3 linked regions of the Homo sapiens genome follow. The protein of the gene in region 1 interacts with the protein of each later gene in a pairwise test. Each region holds a gene or a part of one and is shown on either strand. Other genes may lie near its edges. The genes, in order: CPEB2, SPARC and ATG2A.

The links.
Region 2: the proteins of CPEB2 (region 1) and SPARC interact in a two-hybrid assay, tested with the Homo sapiens proteins (one study listed by BioGRID).
Region 3: the proteins of CPEB2 (region 1) and ATG2A interact in a two-hybrid assay, tested with the Homo sapiens proteins (one study listed by BioGRID).

The regions. Positions count from the first base shown.
Region 1 is NC_000004.12:15,005,390-15,009,137, forward strand, and holds part of CPEB2 (cytoplasmic polyadenylation element-binding protein 2), read left to right. Parts: intron 1-1,081; exon of another isoform or gene 1,082-1,181; intron 1,182-1,915; coding exon 1,916-2,197; coding exon of another isoform or gene 2,198-2,206; intron 2,207-2,948; coding exon 2,949-3,038; intron 3,039-3,748. UniProt on the Homo sapiens protein: May play a role in translational regulation of stored mRNAs in transcriptionally inactive haploid spermatids. Binds to poly(U) RNA oligomers. Required for cell cycle progression, specifically for the transition from metaphase to anaphase.
Region 2 is NC_000005.10:151,666,168-151,669,915, reverse strand, and holds part of SPARC (SPARC isoform 1 precursor), read left to right. Parts: intron 1-131; coding exon 132-252; intron 253-2,315; coding exon 2,316-2,449; intron 2,450-3,406; coding exon 3,407-3,555; intron 3,556-3,748.
Region 3 is NC_000011.10:64,896,565-64,900,312, reverse strand, and holds part of ATG2A (autophagy-related protein 2 homolog A), read left to right. Parts: intron 1-1,470; coding exon 1,471-1,677; intron 1,678-1,875; exon of another isoform or gene 1,876-1,950; coding exon 1,951-2,052; intron 2,053-2,142; coding exon 2,143-2,227; intron 2,228-2,338; coding exon 2,339-2,474; intron 2,475-2,569; coding exon 2,570-2,642; intron 2,643-2,818; coding exon 2,819-2,901; intron 2,902-3,443; coding exon 3,444-3,565; intron 3,566-3,696; coding exon 3,697-3,748. UniProt on the Homo sapiens protein: Lipid transfer protein involved in autophagosome assembly. Tethers the edge of the isolation membrane (IM) to the endoplasmic reticulum (ER) and mediates direct lipid transfer from ER to IM for IM expansion.

The sequences.
Region 1 (3,748 bases):
TGAAATGACACTGGGCAGAATTTTTATTTTCCGGATCTTTTTTGATTCAAGATCTTTTTTGTTATTCCCTCAATACAATTTTTGGGTGACCGCTAGATTGGTAAATTGGCATTGAAAGAGTGTCTTGTTGGTTTTGAATCTTGTTAGCATTTGTTGCAGAGTTCATTCTGTTTAAGTCCATTTTCTATTTTCGTGATTAAGGATTGACAGAGACGCAAAATATGACCTTAACCCCATAACTTTTTCAGTTGACCAAAGTTTTCAAGGATTAGTCTTTTTAAAGTGAATATTATCTAAATTAACCCAAGTGAAAGTTAACAGTTTATCTAAGTTAACCAAAGTGACAGTGAACAGTTTTTGTTGAATCACTGATTTCTTTCTTAGAAAAGAGAATGTGGCCTATGAGGATTGAAAATAGGGATTTTGAAATAATGTTCCACTTTTTCATGATTTTTATAACCCTCAGCAACTGTCTTTTGTGTCTCAGGATCTTCATTTTGTTATCTGGAAACTTGCCCACAGAAAATTATCTGTAGGTAATTTTGTATTTACTTAAAGTTGTGGTACAGAGCGTTGGAAGAACATATACCATGATCCATATTTAACTGTAATTTGCTTTTGGACAAAAGATGGGTCTAGCCATGGAGTGTGAGAGGTCACACAGCTTTCATATGGAATTTTAGATCACTGGAAGATAACTTTGAGCATTAAATCATTTAATAAGGAGAGTAAGGCCCTCAAGAATGAAGTGGTTTGTCCATGGCTCTGTAATTATGCTTTGGACCTCTGTGGAAGAGGAAAGAGTAATAATATACTCATGATTATGTTAGCATTTAAAAGTGTTTAAAAATTGGTGCTGTAGATCAGGAGTTTCTCTTTTAATTGTCTTACAAAAAGCAGGTTCAATTTTAAGAGAACCATATTTATTTGTAGTAACTGTATGGTTCATACTTCTTTAGCTACATCTTAACACCAAAGTATTAAAGTATAAACTTACTGACAGTAGAATTACCAGCAATGAATACTTCTTAAAAAAAAAAAAAACCCAAAACTACAATTATTAGCGTTTTGATGGATTTACCATTCTTTGATGATTTGACTTGTCTTGCCACAGGTTTGAGATTAGGATGTAATTTACTTTTGAAAATGAATCAACTTGATGGAGACTTGTATCAAGATCTCTAGTGGAATAATCAAAGCATATAGTTAATTAGCAGTATACCTCAGTGGATCCACCTATGGGCAACATCAGATAATTGCTTCACAGTTTATGGATAATTAAGTGAAATAAAAACAATTAAGACAAACTATGCTAAAACTGGAATAAAATGCCTTAACAGTTAAATAAACAATGCAGAAAAATGACATAGTTTCTATACTGTCCTTATTTCAAAAGGCGATTTTAATTTGTACAAGAGTAATTCCCACTTTTGTAGTAGTGCAACTTGTTTTGGAAACATAAAGTCTATATATTTCACTTGTATGAGTAGGATATTTTAATTAACAAAGACCATATTTTTAGTTGTGTGCCTAGCATAATTAATATGGTTGCTTTAAGATCACCATGTATGTTATATCTTTAAGAATCTTCAGAGTTAATTTCAATTTTTTTCTTCATATTTATCATGTATACAGTTATCTCTGAAGGATAAAAAGGAACTGCATGGTTCTATTTTAGTAACTGTCATAAAATATCATGATATTTATAGTATACAAGAAGATGAAAACTTGACCAGCATCAAATATGATTTCACATAGAAAGATCTCAAGACTGTTACTTTTATAACCTAGAAAAGATGTATTCTTTTGCCTTTATATATTTCATTCATATAAATTCTTAGGTCTGAAATTTGAATTTGAATTTGAATTGTAAATTCTTTAAATGCCGCAATTTAAATAGCTATGTTTTCCCTAGCCTCTTCTGAAACAGTCTCCCTGGAGCAACCATCAGAGCAGTGGCTGGGGCACTGGAAGTATGTCCTGGGGAGCAATGCATGGCAGAGATCATCGTAGAACCGGAAACATGGGAATCCCAGGAACTATGAATCAGATATCTCCATTGAAGAAACCGTTTTCTGGTAATGTCATAGCACCACCGAAATTTACTCGCTCAACTCCATCACTGACTCCAAAATCTTGGATTGAAGATAATGTGTTCAGAACAGACAACAATAGTAATACACTCTTACCCTTACAGGTAAGAATGGTATGTAAATGACCTTATCTCTAATGTTAATCTTTCAAAATAGGGAGTTGGGTGGTGGTGGTAGTGGTATGCTAAAATTAACATTTTTTGAAATAAAGTTTTAATTTTTAAGCATGTAATTTAATTAACAAAGGTTAAAATATCTATACAGAGAAAATTGAGAATGTAAAATAATTCTCTAAACACGCAATGGAAAATAAGCTTAGTAAAACGTAGAAAAACCTTTTGTATTTATTAAATACATACTGAAGCTTTCAATTAGCAGCTCTTTAAGAATGCTTTAATTTATAAATTCTAATGGGCCACCAAAATTTGTTTCTCCTTTAATATAGCTAAGCTAATATGTTCTGTAATTGTAACTGTTCTTAGAATTGACTATAATTGGCTGTATATATATTAGAATATACTTAGTACAGCTGTGATTGTGGCAAAATAATATTAGGGCTTTTTTGCATCTAATTTAAATTTATCTTCACTAATTCACCGATTATTTTTTCTAAATGTGGCCTAATACGTTGATTAGACTTTTTTTTTCTTTCAGTATTTTTATTATTTTCTTGAAGTTCCCTTATGGCTATTGCAAGTGAGGTTTTTGTTTTGTTTTGTTTTTTTCTTAAACCTTTAGAGGATGGAATGAGGATTTAAGATAGAGCTTTATTTTTTGTTTTCTTTCTTTCTTTCGTTGGGTGGGTATGGGGAAGACAACTGCTCATTTCTGATGAAAACTTCTATGCTATTGAAGGTGAGATCTAGTTTGCAGTTGCCAGCTTGGGGCTCAGATTCACTCCAAGATAGTTGGTGCACTGCAGCCGGAACATCCAGAATAGACCAGGTAGGCTGCACAGTGTATACTTTTTAGGATTTCGGTTAGGAGTTTAGTATTTATATTATGAGTAGGATTTATTATTTACTTTCTTATTATACCTATTGAAACATATGTTAGAGGACACTGAAGCAATTTATTTTTTAAGGATCACCTGCTTTGAACTATTTAATGTAAGAAATTTTTTATTTTCAAATTTAAGAGTAATCCTTTTATAATTCTAAAACATAATAAACTTTTTTTGGAAAAAGGAATTATATACACAAGAGCACCTGACTTTAAACATCAGTCAAACTAAGCAGATTGTATCTCTTTTCAGAATTAAATGCAATTAGGTACAAAATCATATGTTTACTTAACATCTAGCTTTATATTTGATGTTTCATAGAACTTTTCAGTAAATTTTTGTCATGAAGTCTGTATTTGTTTTGAGATATATTTCTAAAAAAGACTTCTCTTGGTTCAGTTTTTTCACCTTTATTAAAAAATATATAGCCTAGTATTCTAAATTTTGTTACTGCTTTTATACCCTGACTTATTCCAAATAATCAGTTTCCTATGGAGAAACCGTTAGTCAAAAAGCTGGGAGTTAGCCTTAATCAAATTACATTTACACCTTTGGTGGTTACAAAATGCTATCTTTCTTCCTGCAAACTGAATTTGAATGTATACTAGGTACCAGGTGGTGAGGATTATTATAGGTTATAGAAAACTCAGTC
Region 2 (3,748 bases), on another chromosome or scaffold:
CTATATGACCTCAGGCTAATGACATTCCTTGCTTAACCCTCAGTGTCCCCATCTCTGAAATGGACAAGGATATTGGTATCAGCGAAGGGCTTTGGGAATGAAGGAGGGGGTACTCTGTGCTTTGCCAACAGGTGTGCAGCAATGACAACAAGACCTTCGACTCTTCCTGCCACTTCTTTGCCACAAAGTGCACCCTGGAGGGCACCAAGAAGGGCCACAAGCTCCACCTGGACTACATCGGGCCTTGCAAATGTGAGTGTCCTTGGGCCCTTCCAGACTCCTGTCTTGGGGAGAGAGCTCTGAGCTGGCACTGATGCTGTCTCTGCCACCCCCATGCTGGGTGATCTTGGGCAAATCTCTCTCCCTTTCTGAGTCTCGGCATCCCCATTTATAAAATGAGGTAATTGTCTATGAGTTGGCTCCTCTCAACTCTGAGTTCAGGGCACTTTCTGGGGAAGGACTGAGCGATTATGGAAGGTCAACATCAGGGAAGATTTCTGGAGTCTCTCACTAGCATCTGAGACAACTGCATTTCATTTCTCTAATGAGGAAGAATTTCTTCTCTCAGGCTAAGTTGAATCTTTCTTGCTTCAACACTGTAAAGCAAAAATGATGTTTGACCTGGGCCTACAAAATATTTTGAAAATATCTGATTTTGAATGCTTTAAAATAAGGGCATGCCTGTCGGTTTGCTTTGGGCCCTGTTACTTGGTACTGTCATATCTTCACCCTTTTACTCCATTACATTCCTATCTGCCCTCCGAAGAGAGAGGATAAGCACCCTCTTCTGGAAACCTGGGAGTCAGTTGTCTGGGGAGGGATGCCAGGGTGTGGTCTGATCTTTGGTTAGTGACCCCAGCTGCAAACTCAGTGGGGCCAAGTGCCTTGTTCAGTATCCTCCCTATCATGGGAGACCCCCAAGACCACACCTGCTCCCCCTCCAAGGCAACATCCACACTGTGGGTCTTGTGTATTCTGGCACCCGATGGCAATGAGGAGAGCCACTCACCTACCTCAGGTGTACAGGGTGCAGAAAAGTATGTAGGGGGTGGGAAACAAAGTTCTCCTCGTGGGACCCCAGGTATGAAATTGAGAAGGTACAGAGTAGAAAAGGAGGGTTGGGGGAAGAAGCATGGGTAGGAAGTCCCTGGGCAGCAAGACTAGAGAGCCTGTCTTAAGGAGTCTTTATGAAGTGGCTTTGCTTTCCCTGAGGCATGTTGCCCACTCACTTCAACTCCTAAGGTTTTTATCACCAGATATTCTCTCCCAGACCCCAGCTGATGATGAAGGTAGCCTCACAGAGGGGACTTTCCCTGGTTCAATGATGAGGGAAGAACAGACCCCTAAGCCCCCAGGTGACCACACTGCCCTGGATGCTGGATGAGGCTCTGACATTGTGGCCTTGAGCAAGTCCCTTCTCTCCATGCTGACCTCTAATAAGTCCAGTACAAAGTGTGAACCTGGGTCAGGCGCGGTGGCTCACGCCTGTAATCCCAGCACTTTGGGAGGCCGAGTAGGGAGGATCACTTGAGCTCAGGAGTTCGAGACCAGTCTGGGCAACGTGGCAAAACCTTGTCTCTGGAAAATATACAAAAATTAGCTGGGTATGGTGGCATGTGCCTGTAGTCCCAGCTACTCAGGAGGCTGAGGAGGGAGGATTGGTTGAGTCCAGGAGGCTGAGGCTGCAGTGAGCCGTGATTGTGCCACTGCACTCCAGCCTGGGCAACAGAGTGAGACCCTGTCTAAAAAAAAAAAAAAGAAGAAAAAAAGAAAAAAGAAAAGAAAAGGAAAAGAAAAGTGTGGACTTGGATGAAATCTTCAGGTCCAACATTTGGGATTCTAAGTTCCAAAGACCAGGTTGGAATCATTTCTAAGAAGGTTCTGGTGGTTACACATTCCTGAGTCCTCTACTCCCCACTCCCTGCCAAGCTGGGCCTGTGGATAGATGTGATCCCTCAGCCTCCCAGCTTCAAACACCTGCCAGTGGTTGACGTGAACAACATGGGCTCAGTCTCAGCTAGGATCACACCCAAAGCCCAGCACCCAGTAAGGTGCAGGAGCCATCCATTTCCCTGAGCAGAGCAGATTAGGCTGAGGAAAGCAGCAGCCATGCCTTTGCACAATGCATTTCTAGGGCATTCTTCCCACACATAATCTCCTCTGCTCATTGTCCTGTGAAGAAACTGTGGCCTGGAGAGGTTGAGCCACTGTGCCAAGGCCACCAATGCAGGTGGTATGTGGGTGGGTGGGGGCCTGGGGTGGGGAGCACGGCCCAGGCAGGGTCTGTGCTGACCGCCCTTGTGTTTGGAACCTAGACATCCCCCCTTGCCTGGACTCTGAGCTGACCGAATTCCCCCTGCGCATGCGGGACTGGCTCAAGAACGTCCTGGTCACCCTGTATGAGAGGGATGAGGACAACAACCTTCTGACTGAGAAGCAGAAGCTGCGGGTAAGTGGTCTCTCTGGCCTTGCTGGCCCCGTGCTGGTGAAGATCCAGTCCCATTCCTAGAACTGGGCCCCCAGCTGCAGGGCGGCATCCTGCTCCGGAGCGTGCATTTACCCCTGAGCACCAGGACACGTACTTCTCTTCCTGCCTTTGGAGGCTGTGGTGCACATTAACATCTTAGAGGCTCTGAGAAGTCCTGCAGCAGAGACCTGCTCCCTTTGCTTAACCTAACGTTAAACAAAAGAGACACAAACAGCCCTATTCCTTTTTCCTTTGGAGTCTGTGGATCTTAAGCTTTAATGAGCATATTAACTACCCCAAGAAGCTGATAAAATGCAGATTCCTTGGCCCCATCTCAGGCCACTGAAACAGTGTCTCTAGAAAGCAAGGCCCAGGAAGCTGCATTCTAAATACTCCCCAGGTGATTTATGTTTATTTTATTTTTTTGAGGCAAAGTCTCACTCTGTTGCCAGGCTGGAGTGCAGTGGTGCGATCTCGGTTCACTGCAACCTCCACCTCCTGGGTTCAAGTGATTCCCCTGCCTCAGCCTCCTGAGTAGCTGGGACTGCAGGCATGCTACCACACCTGGCTAATTTTTGTATTTTTAGTAGAGATGGAGTTTCACTGTGTTGGCCAGGCTGGTCTCAAAACTCCTGGCCTCAGGTGATCTGCCTGCCTCAGCCTCCCAAAGCGCTGGGATTACAGGTGTGAGTGTGTGCCCGGCCTTCGCCAGGTGATTTTGATGTGGGTAGCTATATGGAGAATTCTTTGAGGTCATCCCAGGCTTCTATTTTTGTGAATGAGATGCTAGTACCCATCTATGACACCTCCCTCCCCTCGCTGTGAGCTTTGGTCTGGCTAGTCTCTGCCTGCTCTGGCCTTCTGGGAGGGGTGGGAGGGCCCGACTGGTCCAGACAATCTCCATGGACCTCTTGTCACACACAGTCTCTACTCCCTCAGGTGAAGAAGATCCATGAGAATGAGAAGCGCCTGGAGGCAGGAGACCACCCCGTGGAGCTGCTGGCCCGGGACTTCGAGAAGAACTATAACATGTACATCTTCCCTGTACACTGGCAGTTCGGCCAGCTGGACCAGCACCCCATTGACGGGTAAGACCCCAGACCCTAGAGTGAACAGAGCTCAAGGCTGGCAGGTGCACTAGCTATGGCCAGAAAGCCTCTCAGCAGCCTATACTGCTCCAAGCCCTGGCATCCACAGTTTGCCTGGGGATTGGAGCAGAAGGATGAGGCATCTGGAGAAAAGATGTGGACCTGGGACAAAGAAACCGATAAGACACTCTCA
Region 3 (3,748 bases), on another chromosome or scaffold:
CTGCAGGGGTGGAGGAGACAGGTGTGCTGGGGAGGGTCTGGAAAGTCCTCTTCTGAAGGCACCATTTGAACAAAGACCTGAACAAGTGGGGATGTGAGCCAGGAAGAGTTTTCAGGCAGAGAGGACAGCGTGAAAGCCGCAAATTGGGGCCAGGCATGGTGGCTTATGCCTGTAATCCCAGCACTTTGGAAGGCCGAAGAGAGCAGATCACCTGAGCTCAGGAGTTTGAGACCAGCCTGGGCAACATGGCGAAACCCCATTTCTACCAAAAAAAAAAAAAAAAAAAATTAACCATTTGCAGTGGTGTGTGCCTATAGTCCCAGCTACTCAGGAGGCTGAGGCAGGAGAGTTGTTTGAGCCCAAGAGGCAGAGGTTGCAGTGAGTTGAGATCGCCCTATTGCATTCCAGCCTGGGCAACAGAGTAAGACTCTGTTTCAAAAAAAAAAAAAAATGCTGGAAGCTGGAAGCATCCTGACATTTCCAGGAGCAGCAGAGCCTGTGCATAACCAGCGACCCAGAATGTTTCTTTTGAGTCTTACAAGAGACGAACCCCTCAGGGCTTTTGAGGAGAGGCCTCTGTGGGGTGGGGCTCTGCAGCAATCAGGGAGGGCTAGTGAGCAGGTTCAGGAGAGCCTAGATGGGGGCTGGCCACAGGTTCAGCTGCGGATGGGGTGTGTGAGATACAGAGAGTGGTACAGAGGGTTCAAGGTTTGGGCCTGGGAAATTGCCTGGGGCAGGGGGGTCCCACTTGCTCAGAGTGAGCCAGGCCAGTGCTGGGCTTCCCAAGGAGCCGCTAGAGGCAAAGGGCAGAGGGGCCTCAGGCTGCTCGGGTTGGTGGGCTGTGCTGCAAGAACCTGCGGGAGATGAGTGTCAGAGCAGGGGGCCAGGGGCCTCTCTGAGACCTGATGGCCAGCCAGCGGGTGTGCAGGAAGAGGGGGAAGGAAGGCTCTCCACGGAGAGGGGCTACGAGAGCAAAGTCCTGAAGGCAAAACAGGCCTGGACTCCTTGAGGGGCAGAGACCAGTGCAGCTGGCATGGGAAGCAAGAGCAGGGTCAGGTCTGGAGGGAGAGGCAGGTCCCTGCTGGGCATAGAATAGAGAAGGGGTAGGGGCCGGGCATGGTGGCTCATGCCTGTAGTCCCAGCACTTTGGGAGGACGAGGCAGGCAGATCACTTGAGGCCAGGAGTTCGAGACCAGCCTGGCCAACGTTGTGAAACCCTGTCTCTACTAAAATTAGCTGGGTGTGGTGGCACATGCCTGCAATCCCAGCTACTGGGGAAGCTGAGGCAGGAGAATCGCTTGAACCCGAGAGGCAGAGGTTGCAGTGAGCCGAGATCACGCCACTGCACTCCAACCTGGGCGACAGAGTGAGACTCTGTCTCAAAAAAAGAATAGAGAAGGGGTCTGGGGCCAGCCCTTCCCTCCCTCTTGGGGCCCTGCTTACCTGGCCAGGCCTCTGTCCACCCCACAGGTAAGCTTCCAGCACGAGGTGTACCCAGCGGAGCCAGCCACAGGCCCTGCGGCCCCCAGCCAGGAGCTGGAGGAGCGACCGCTGTCCCGTCAGGTGTTCATCGTGCAGGAGCTGGAGGTCCGAGACCGGCTCGCCTCCTCCCAGATCAACAAGTTCCTGTACCTACACACGAGTGAGCGGATGCCGCGACGTGCCCACTCTAACATGGTATGAGCGACCTGCACCATCCACCCTGGGGCAGGGCACCAGACCGTTGGGGATACATCTTCACGCATGCATGGATTCACACACATACACGCATTCCCACACAAACACCCAGGTTGTTTGTGAGCCTGGGAGAAGGGCAGAGCTAGGGGCTGTGTTAGCGAAGGGAACAGCGTGTTCAGAGGCAGGGTGGCTGGGTGAGCTGTCAGGGAACAGCTGGGTGAGCTGCTGCCCCAGAGGCCCAGCAGGTGTCCAGAACTCACCCTCTGCTCCCAGCTCACCATCAAAGCGCTGCATGTGGCCCCCACTACCAACCTGGGTGGGCCTGAGTGCTGTCTCCGCGTCTCGCTGATGCCCCTGCGGCTCAATGTGGACCAGGTGAGTGGTCTACGTGAGGGCAGAGCCTAGGGTGACCCCACTGTCTCCAGGCCTCTGAGTCTGATCCACATCTGGACCTCTCCCTTGCAGGATGCCCTCTTCTTCCTCAAGGACTTCTTCACTAGTCTGGTGGCCGGCATCAACCCCGTGGTCCCAGGGGAGACCTCCGCTGAGGGTGAGAGGCTGGGCCAGGGAGGGGAGCGTCTGGGCCTTCTGCCTCCCAGGACAGCACAGGTTCCCAGTCATTCCTGGCCCCATCCCCAGTCTGTGACCTCCCCTCCCCTAGCTCGCCCCGAGACTCGAGCCCAGCCCAGCAGCCCCCTGGAAGGGCAGGCCGAAGGCGTAGAGACCACTGGTTCGCAGGAGGCCCCAGGAGGTGGACACAGCCCCTCCCCTCCTGACCAGCAGCCCATCTACTTCAGGTAGGCTGCTGGACTGCGGGTGGGGGGCCCTGGGCCAGATTGCTGGGGGCCAGGCCAGTGAGCAAAGAACCCCCTCTTCCTGCTCCCCTACCCAGAGAGTTCCGCTTCACGTCTGAGGTCCCCATCTGGCTGGATTACCATGGCAAGCACGTCACGATGGACCAGGTGGTAAGTGGGGCGGTCGGATGGGGTGGCCATGTGGGGTCAGCTGTGGCTGAGTCCCTCTGGGGGCCAGGTCTTGCATCCAGGCACTGTTAGCAGCCAGGGCGCTCTCCAGTGGCTCCCATGGGCTAGCTAGCTCCCTGAGTCCCATTGGGTAAACCTGGACCCCCTCCCTCTCCCAGGGCACTTTTGCTGGCCTCCTCATCGGCCTGGCCCAACTCAACTGCTCCGAGCTGAAGCTAAAGCGGCTCTGTTGCAGGCACGGGTGAGTCCCCAGCACCCCAGCCTCTCTCCAGGGTCCCTGATCTTCCTTCTGTTCTGGTCCTGACTGGTTGTGTGGCCTTGGCCAAGTCATCACCCTTCTCAGGGCCTCAGTTTCTCCTCTGTAAAAAGGACGCAGTTGGCTGGGCATGATGGCTCACACATTCAGGCATTCGAGACCAGCCTGACCAACATGGTGAAACCCCCCCGTCTCTACTAAAAATACAAAAATTAGCCAGGCGTGGTGGCATACACATGTAATCCCAGCTACTCAGGAGGCTGAGGCAGGAGAACTGCTTGAACCTGGGAGGCGGTTGCAGTGAGCCAAGATCGCACCACTTCACTCCAGCCTGGGCAACGGAGCAAGACTCCATCTAAAAAAAAAAAAAAAGGACACAGTCCCTCTGCACATGACTGGGTGGGACCACAGGGAGGGTAGAGTGCCCACAGTACTTGCCACAGGGGTACTGAGTCCTCCTGACCCCACAATCCCTCCATGTGTGGCTCTGCCTCACCTTCTGCCTCCTCACCTCCCTGCCCTGCCAGGCTCCTGGGTGTGGACAAGGTGCTGGGCTATGCCCTCAACGAGTGGCTGCAGGACATCCGCAAGAACCAGCTGCCCGGCCTGCTGGGAGGCGTGGGCCCCATGCACTCGGTTGTCCAGCTCTGTGAGTGTCTAGGTTTGGAAGCCCTCGAAACTGCTTTTACCCTTGGGCAACCTAGAAGCTGCCATTGGGAATAAGAGGAGGAGGTGGGGGCAGGGCAGCCTCGGGTGTCTCTGAGCGCTCCTTCCCCCTAGTCCAAGGGTTCCGGGACCTGCTGTGGCTGCCCATTGAGCAGTACAGGAAGGA